Linked DNA regions of Homo sapiens: all the other regions are linked to region 2. Evidence: fine-mapped expression QTL. A gene starts in region 2. Each other region holds a variant in brackets. All regions are shown on one strand. Distances are between the middles of the regions. Region 1 overlaps DNAJC5 (DnaJ heat shock protein family (Hsp40) member C5). Region 2 holds the start of DNAJC5 (DnaJ heat shock protein family (Hsp40) member C5). Region 3 overlaps DNAJC5 (DnaJ heat shock protein family (Hsp40) member C5).

Region 1 (2,751 bases), 34 kb before region 2:
CGGATCACGAGGTCAGGAGATCGAGACCATCCTGGCTAACACGGTGAAACCCTGTCTCTACTAAAAATACAAAAAATTAGCTGGACGTGGTGGCGGGCACCTGTAGTCCCAGCCACTCGGGAGGCAGAGGCAGGAGAATGGCGTGAACCCGGGAGGTGGAGCTTGCAGTGAGCCAAGATCGCGCCACTGCACTCCAGCCTGGGAAACAGAGCGAGACTCCGTCTCAAAAAAAAAACAAAGCAGCCTCCAGGCTGGGCACAGTGGTTCACGCCTCAACTCCTGCAGTTCTGGAGCTGAAGTGGGAGGATCACTTGAACCCAGGAATTCAAAGTTAAAGTGAGCCAGGATCTCACCACAGCACTCCAGTCTGGGCAACAGAGCGAGACTCTGTCTAACATTAACTAAATAAAAAGTACTTTATAAGGATTCTAGTGAGGAGGCCGACCAGTCAAAGCCAAATACAGGCTTCTCACAAATGCCATGCAGTGATTCCAACCCTCTGGCCTCATATATGACATTTGGAACAAAACGAGGAAACGAAGAAATGCGGATGTAACATCGAGGCTTATTTCCTCCTGTCTCACGAAGGACTGGGAGCCATTTACAGAAGAAACCCTGGCGGCTCCGCACGGCTCTTCCCTGGGACAATCTGTACGCTATGGCTTGTTCCAGGCAGGACACCAAGCCAGTGACAGAGCTTCGCCCATCACACAGGTGAGGAGAAAGGCTCCATATGCCCAGAAGCCTTTTCTCAGGAGTGTAGAGTTGCTGGCATCAACGCATGGGCTCTGCAATGCTGGGAACCCTGCAGGCGTGGAGTGACCCGGGTGCCCACATGGCAGGAGAGACTCGGGTGCCCGCACGGCAGGAGTGACTCGGGCGCCCGCACGGCAGGAGTGACTCGGGTGCCCGCACGGCAGGAGAGACTCGGGTGCCCGCACGGCAGGAGAGACTCGGGTGCCCGCACGGCAGGAGTGACTCGGGTGCCCGCACGGCAGGAGAGACTCGGGTGCCCGCACGGCAGGAGTGACTCGGGTGCCCGCACGGCAGGCAGCTCGCCCTCACCTTGGCCCACCAGCTGGACAGCACGAAGTAGGTGTTCACGTTCTCTTCCCCAAACTGCTCGGCCACGTAGAGACCCAGCGAGCCGTACTTGTCGTAGATGTTCCTTTTTGTGGCGTCCGTGAGGATGGCGTGCGCGTTGTTGATCTCCTTAAACTTGTCCGCGGCCTCCGGGTTGTC[G/A]GGGTTCTTGTCGGGGTGATATTTCAAGGCAAGCTTCCTGCAAACCAAAACCATGTCCTGGCTCTACCCTGGACTTTGTTCCACCCGCACCCGCCGCCGCGTCCATCCCACCCGCACGCACTGCCGGGTGCAGTGGAAGGCAGGTCCACCCAGGCCACCTCACTGTCCGACTCTCCAGGGCTGCAGGGGCCAGGGACAAAAGCAAGCTCCGCGGTTGTTTCAGGTAAACCTCCTCACCCTGACCCAGCCTCAGAGGAGGGAGCCCCAAGGGCTGTGAGTGCCACGGCACATCTAAGTTCAGCGGCACCAAGGCCAGCCCTGGTGTCCCAGCCGCTAACTGCACAAGTGCCAAGTGAACGGTAAGCACGGCGGGGCGTAATGATGGCACTTTAAGAAGTGTTTTATGAACTACACGATGCTAGCACACGAGAGGAGGACTATCTGAATTGTCTGGATTAGTGATGGTGTCTCTTACAGGTTACTCAATGAAACTGTACCCAAGAGTGCAGTTCTTCAAGCTCAATCAGAAGGCCACAACAGAGTGAGGGGTCTCTGTCATCACTGTGCTAAAACAAGGAGACCACAGGACCATGCCAGCGCTCTGCGGCTCCTGTGAGGCCTCAAACAGGTTCAGACCCTGACTCCCTATGGAACTGTGGACAGTGTGTCAGTTTCTACTAAGTGCTATTTTTTGTTGGCAAGAGAACATGAATACCATAACTTTAAGCTATAAGGAGCACATTACACATACAAAGGTGTTACCGAGCTGTGACCAGTTCAACGCTGAGTCGGCCAGGATAAAGTATGTGCAATGGTTCTTGGTAAAATGCAGACTAAACCACACGGGGCATGTGTGTCTTCCTGGGGGGATGTGGGGGCCACACTTGTCCACTTACCGATAGGACTTTTTAATGTCATCTGAGGTTGCGTTCTTGTCCAACCCAAGGACGTGGTACAATGACTCCCCAGAGGTAGACAGTGAGCGCTGTCTCTGGTCTGCCATGTTAGGCTATTCTAGAAGAAAAAATAAAAAGAAAGTATCACAAAGTATAGATGAAAGTACCAAGGGCAGAGCTGATGGACTTTATTCCATAAGACCGTTCAAAGCAAAAGAATCCAACACTGCCTTGTGGAGTTTGCCACGTGCACAGACAGACGCCATGGCATGGAGAAGTGTGAGACGGCAGAATACGGCCACCCCAAGAGATCCTGAAGAACTGCAGCTGTGTACTGTGGGCCGGCACAGGGGCTCACACCTGTAGTCCCAGCATTTTGGGAGGCTGAGGCGGGAGGACCGCTTGAGCCCAGGAGTTTGAGGCTGCAGTGAGCTATGATCACTCCACTGCACTGGAGCCCAGGAGACAGGGACCCTGTTCCTTAAAAACAAATATATAAATAAACAAAATAAATTAATTAATTAAAATAAACATGCATATTGTAATCCTTACAGCAACCTCTGCATAAAAAATGCAAAGAGGTATAAGCTAAAAAGTTACAAGAAAAATGAAA
Region 2 (2,751 bases):
ACGCCAGCTGGAGCCACCCCGAGTCCTACAGCACCGACACAAGTGAAAGGGGAACTCAACCGAAACTTCCCCAAAGCCCTTAGATCCAGGCTTCTAATTTCATCTCTTGTTTGACAGACTACTCATTCCTGAAACTCAGCTGACATTTTTTTAAAAAGAGAAGCAAATAAACGAACATAAAATCTCAGAAGCTTTGAGTAAACTTTTGCCTTCAGGTAACCATGACAATAGTGGGAGCAATGTAACTGTTTTTGTCATTAGAATAGGTTTTTCTAAACAGGCAAATAAGGGCAGACGTGTCTAACCACCATCAAATCTTCCCAACCAAGCCTAAGCCGGAAAACAAAAATAAAGCTGAAATTTTTGCTTCCTTTTCCTGTATGACACAACTGAATGAATTTGAGAAATCATGGCTTCGGCACACGAAAAAGAGAGTCTTTAATCCAGACACTTAACACCAACAAGTTAGAACCTGAACGGACGAGTTCCTAATACTCTCCTTAAGAGTTCAATATAAAGCATGGCTTCAAATGTTTTTATAAAGCGGAGAAAACAGGTTTTTTCTAACAAACCAAATGCTTTTTGGAATTTACAACGTCGGAAAGATTAATTTACGATGCGTTACAGAACAATTTTCAATTCCCCGAGCTATAAACACAACGACCCAGGGACTAAATTATCTGCCTCCCTAAGACCAGCGATGGCCCAGCTTCTCCAGTCCCCCCGCAGGAGAGGAGACCCCGGGGGGTTGGGGGCGGCCGCGGGGACCTGGGGGAGCGGAGGGGGCGTCCGGGCCCGAAGAGACCCGCGGAGAGCGCCGCCCCAGCCCCCACCACGGTGCTCAGACCCCCGGCCCGGCCCGGCCCGGCTCCCGCAGGCCCCGGCGCCGACCTTCCCGCGCCCCCGCCCCGGCCCAGGCCGCGGCGTCGCAGCAGCTCCGGCCCCGAGCGCCCGCGCAGCCCCGGCCCGGGGGTCGCCGCCATTTCCGGCTCTGGAGTGCCGCCCCCGCCCCCCACCCGCGCCCGCCCGCCCGCCTGCCCGGGCCTGACGTGGGCCGATCCGCCCGCCCGACCCGCAGCGAGCTCACCTGCCCGTCCGCCCGCCCGCCCGCCCTCCCGCCGGCTCCGCGGCTCCGCTCCCCGATTCGCGGCGCTGCTGGGCAGCGGCCGACGCACTCCTCAGCCTGGAGACCCCGGGCGGCGGCGGCGGCGGCGGCAGAGGGCGCGGGTGCGGCACCGGCAGCGGCAGCGGCAGCGGCAGCGGAGACGAGCACGCTCACGCACGCACCCGCACCGGCGCGCGCGCTCCCGGAAGGACGTGGGCTCCGGCGTGTCGGAGCCGCGGGTGGGACCGGCTGCGCATGCGCTCAGAGAGCCGAGCGGAGGCTCCGTCCATGAAGGGGCGGAGTCCCGAGTGACAGCCCGGGGCCGAGGCGCCCTGTGGAGGCTCCGCCCATGAGTGGGCGGGGACGAAGCGCGGGGGCGGAGCCAGTCCTCCCAGTCTTCAGGTGGCCGCAGGTGGGTCCCGGGTGGACACGCCATGTGCTGCGGGGAACCGCGCAGAAAGAGAAGCGCAGGGCTTGCTGGTCTTGCAGGTGAGTTTACTCAGCGCTTTAAGTAAGACTGAGAAAACGTAATCGTTCTCATCAAAGAACTGAACAGGGAGCTGGTGGGAGACGGCTGCGGACCGTCGCCCCCGCCCCCACCCGGAGCCACCGTCCTGGGACTGACATTTGCTCAACCCTGGAGCGCCGAGATGGGACGTCCTTCCTTCCTTCCTGTCCAACCACTGAAATGCCGTCGCCAGCGCCCTCCCACCCTCCCGGAATCATCTCCAAACAGCAGCGTGGAGAGGCAGGACCACGAACGTCCACTCCACCTCCCTCTGCCCTTGCCCATCCCGTCGGCCACCCTTCCCTGTCCCTGTAACTGCAGGCGCTCCGCCACTCACTGACGGCCTGCCCCGCGTAGGCTGCCTGGGCCACTTCCCATCCTAGAAGCTCCCAGACCTCTGCGGCCGGTGCTCCTGCCTCCTCGCTTCCACCCTTGCCCGTTTACCTGAGTTCAGTGCGGTCATCTTTTTAAAACAAACCCAGTAGCATCCAAGGCTTCCCGTGACACACTGCGTGAAACCCAAATTCTCTCTCAACACGCTCTGGCCTCCTTCCTCTGCCCTCATAACTCACTGCCATAATGCCGGTCTTGAATTGCCAAGCTTGTTCCAGTCTCACAGCCTGGAAGTGTCAGAGCTTGGGAAGCCTCCTAGCAGTCATTAAGCTGCGCAACATCAAGCAGGCAGCAAGAAAAGGCCTATGGAACCCAAGAAGCAGAAAGGCCAGGTTCATATCTACAACTATAGATTCCAAGAGAATGAAATATTTCAGGCCAGAATTGGAGGGATGAGAGAATGAAATGGGCCTGGTACCGATCTCAGATTGAAGCTATATTCCACTTGTGCTGGGAGCTGCAAGAATGAATGAACCAGCCTTAAGTGAGTCCCTCTGAGACCTAGCAGTTCCACTTTAGGGACATTCTTCCAAAGAAAATATTCCTAAATACAGAAAAAGGTATATGCACTGAAATATTCATGAAGGCACTATTTTTAATAGCGAGAATGGAAACCTGCCCAACTGCACAAGTGAGCACTCAAATGGAATAATATAGTTACTGAAATGTATACAACGGGACCCATGGCTCACGCCTGGAATCTCAGCACTTTGGTAGACCAAGGCAGGAAGATCACTGGAGCCCA
Region 3 (2,751 bases), 38 kb before region 2:
CCAGGACTCACCACCTCTTTTAATTATAGGGAAACAGTCCACTCAAGAAAGAGAGAAATAAAACCCGGGAGGATCTTTTTCCTTAAATTAAGACAAAGCCTTAAAGCCAACAGGGCAGAGCGCTGAAAACGGTTCTGCTTCTAGGTCAGGCAGGGGGAGGAACTCCAGGCCCCGAGTGTCTGGGCTTCCCGGGGGTCGTCTAATCACAATCACCACCGTGAGAATGGCCACAACCATGATTTATTAGGTTTTACAGATTCTGCAGGGGACTGGGTTCCACAAACCTCCAGACCTGCTCCTCTTTCCCACCCTACCCCACCTTCCGCAGGGAGCTGCATGGTTCTACAAAATGGTCCACTGGACTCTGTAACTGAAAAGCCACCTGGCAAGGGGCCCACTCTGATGGGTACCGAAGGGCCTTGGAGTGTTCTAGCCACAGAGCTGTGTGCAGGCCCAACAGAGGGCCTGGTGGGGCTGAGCTAGGGCCCCCGATGGGCAGCTTTCTACCTTAGGTCCAAGCTTAGAACCTGGCTCTTGGCCAGTCTGCGGAAAAATAACTCACGTCCTAAGCTACATCTACAAAAATTGCAAAGGCTGAGTACAGCCAGCATCTCAGGCTGAACTTGCTGCTGCACGAAGCGGCACGGAGGCACCCCACTGTCTCGCCACCTCACCTTTCAGGATGGGCCAAACAATGAATTTCTTATTCTTTTAGGAGAGGTCTGATTTTGATAAATTATTTCTAATTTAATATCACAGTGCATATCTCTCCTCTTGTCAAAGGTCTTCGTGATCATTTTAGTGAGAAGAAACAAAGAAAAGTGGGACAAACAAAGCTGCCCAGGACCTAGTGCTGGCAGCCGGCTCATGGTCCACATGCGGATCTGCAGTAGGGGTCAGCTGGGGGCCCTCAACCAGCACCCTGTTCCTAAGCACGTCCAGATGTATCCTCATATCCATGTCCCTTTTGGCAGCTTCCTGGTCAACCTGAACCTACCCTTCTGCACAGCCTCGGGTGGCTGCTGAGGGCAATGAGTGAGCTGGGGCCACGGGTCAGCAGGCAGGCAGGGAAGGGGGCTTCAGGAGGCTCATCTGGTTGGTCCGAGCCAGAGCCATCACACACAGCCTCCTCCTCAGCTTTATCTCTACAGGGACCTCTGCAACTCTGCAGCGGCCACCATGGACATTCTGCAGAAACCAGGCCCACTGGAGTCTGCAGCATGGCGCCAAAGGCAGGCCCAGCACATCCCATGAGCTACGGAGTGCGGGCAGCTCTGAGCCCTCAGCCAGCACAGGGACATCAGACCCGTTCCCCCTGCTCCCCTATGCAGGGCGCCACCCACAAGGTCTAGGACACGCAAGAGACTGACTTCCCATGGTCCACATGTGGATTCC[G/A]TAGTCTGGCTGCTGGCCTCCCAAGGGACCCACAATGGTCCACGTGTGGATTCCGTGGCCTGGCTGCCGGCCTCCCAGGGACCCACAATGGTCCACGTGTGGATTCTGTGGCCTGGCTGCCGGCCTCCCAGGGACCCAACCCTCCTGAGCCAGAGGGTCCCTCTGGTCCAGTCAGTCCTTCCTCCAGGGACCTAACGAATCTGGCTCTGCCTGAATCATCGATGACGGGGCAAAGGCGAGTGGGGCAGATGGGAGCTCTGGCAAACACAGGAGGAGGGGTCGTGGGAGAGCCCCCGTCCCCAGTAGCTGGGTGCTCACACATGCACAATCTACTCTCTGACTGTGGCTCATTGGGCTGGTCCTATCATCTGTGGTTCTAAAGGTCCAAAAAGGGCTATGGAAAGGACAGGTGTGCTGGAAGGAATGTGGAGAACGACCTCAAGATGGGAGGGGGGAGACTGGCCCCATCAATCCAGCTCAGAGCCCGGGAAAAGTGCAGGAACACAGACAAATAACCCCAACACGGCGAAGGACACACCTCCGAGAACCAGAACGGCAGCGTCCACACGACGAGACGACCAGGCGAGAAACACCGCGGAGGACACGGTGTCAACCTCGGAAGGGGCCTCCTATGCTTTCCACACCAAATTCTCCCACGGGAGAAACCCTGCCACAAGGCCCAGGAAACCACAGACCCCCAAGCCAACCATGCCCAGCACAGACACCAAGGAATGACAGTGACGCCGGTGACGCCAGGAGGACGCGGCCCCGCCTCTCTTCTGGCAGGTGAGATCAGAGTCCTACTGCAGCCTCAAGGCTGGGAGCACAGAGTGTGGACCAGACCCCGAGGCCAAGACGGTAACACAGCTCTGCCAGGCAGCACCTGCCTCCGGCCCCTCAAGCACAGGTAGGAAAGGGGCAGCCCCCCTTCTCCTCGCCCACCTGACCGGCTGCAGTCACCCCTCACTGGACCAACCTGACCGACAGCCCTGAGGCAGCTCCACCGTGCAGTTCACGCGGTCATGCCGCGGAATGTCCACAACACAGACATGGAACAGAACCCCATACATGCTATTAAAAAAGGGAAAAAAACAGAAGACCGTAGCTACACTGCTTTAAATACTGCATGCTACGCACTTCGTGGGTCAAGGGTCGACGCTGGGTGGGCGTGGAGGCAGGAGGGGCCCCAGCAAGGCCAGGGCAGGCAGGAGGCTGCCTTCCCATCTCTGTGACTACAGTTCATGATTCTAAGGTTGGCGTGGCCAGGCGCCGGCTCCTCCTCTGACCACAGCTCCTCCTGGATTTAGTTGAACCCGTCAGTGTGGTAGCTGGGGTGGGAGTCGGCTGTGAGCTGGG

What was found.
Region 1: its variant is fine-mapped to the expression of DNAJC5 in whole blood (TOPMed, PIP above 0.99).
Region 3: its variant is fine-mapped to the expression of DNAJC5 in whole blood (TOPMed, PIP above 0.99).

What each region holds. Positions count from the first base shown.
Region 1 is chr20:63,927,840-63,930,590 of GRCh38, reverse strand. It overlaps DNAJC5 (DnaJ heat shock protein family (Hsp40) member C5), which reads right to left. Exons shown (of 5, transcript NM_025219.3): 2 at 2,139-2,256; 3 at 1,066-1,279. The coding sequence starts at 2,245. Among named protein-coding and RNA genes, the nearest start is that of MIR941-5, 9.3 kb to the right of the region's middle. The variant G/A (reference allele first, on the strand shown) is at 1,243.
Region 2 is chr20:63,893,660-63,896,410 of GRCh38, reverse strand. DNAJC5 (DnaJ heat shock protein family (Hsp40) member C5) reads right to left here and starts at 1,285. Exons shown (of 5, transcript NM_025219.3): 1 at 1,088-1,285. RefSeq lists a silencer at 1,204-1,443, enhancers at 1,443-1,970, 1,903-2,072 and a cis regulatory region at 1,987.
Region 3 is chr20:63,931,516-63,934,266 of GRCh38, reverse strand. DNAJC5 (DnaJ heat shock protein family (Hsp40) member C5) reads right to left here. Exons shown (of 5, transcript NM_025219.3): 5 at 1-2,751. The coding sequence ends at 2,699. Among named protein-coding and RNA genes, the nearest start is that of MIR1914, 8.7 kb to the left of the region's middle. RefSeq lists an enhancer at 1,530-2,031. The variant G/A (reference allele first, on the strand shown) is at 1,396.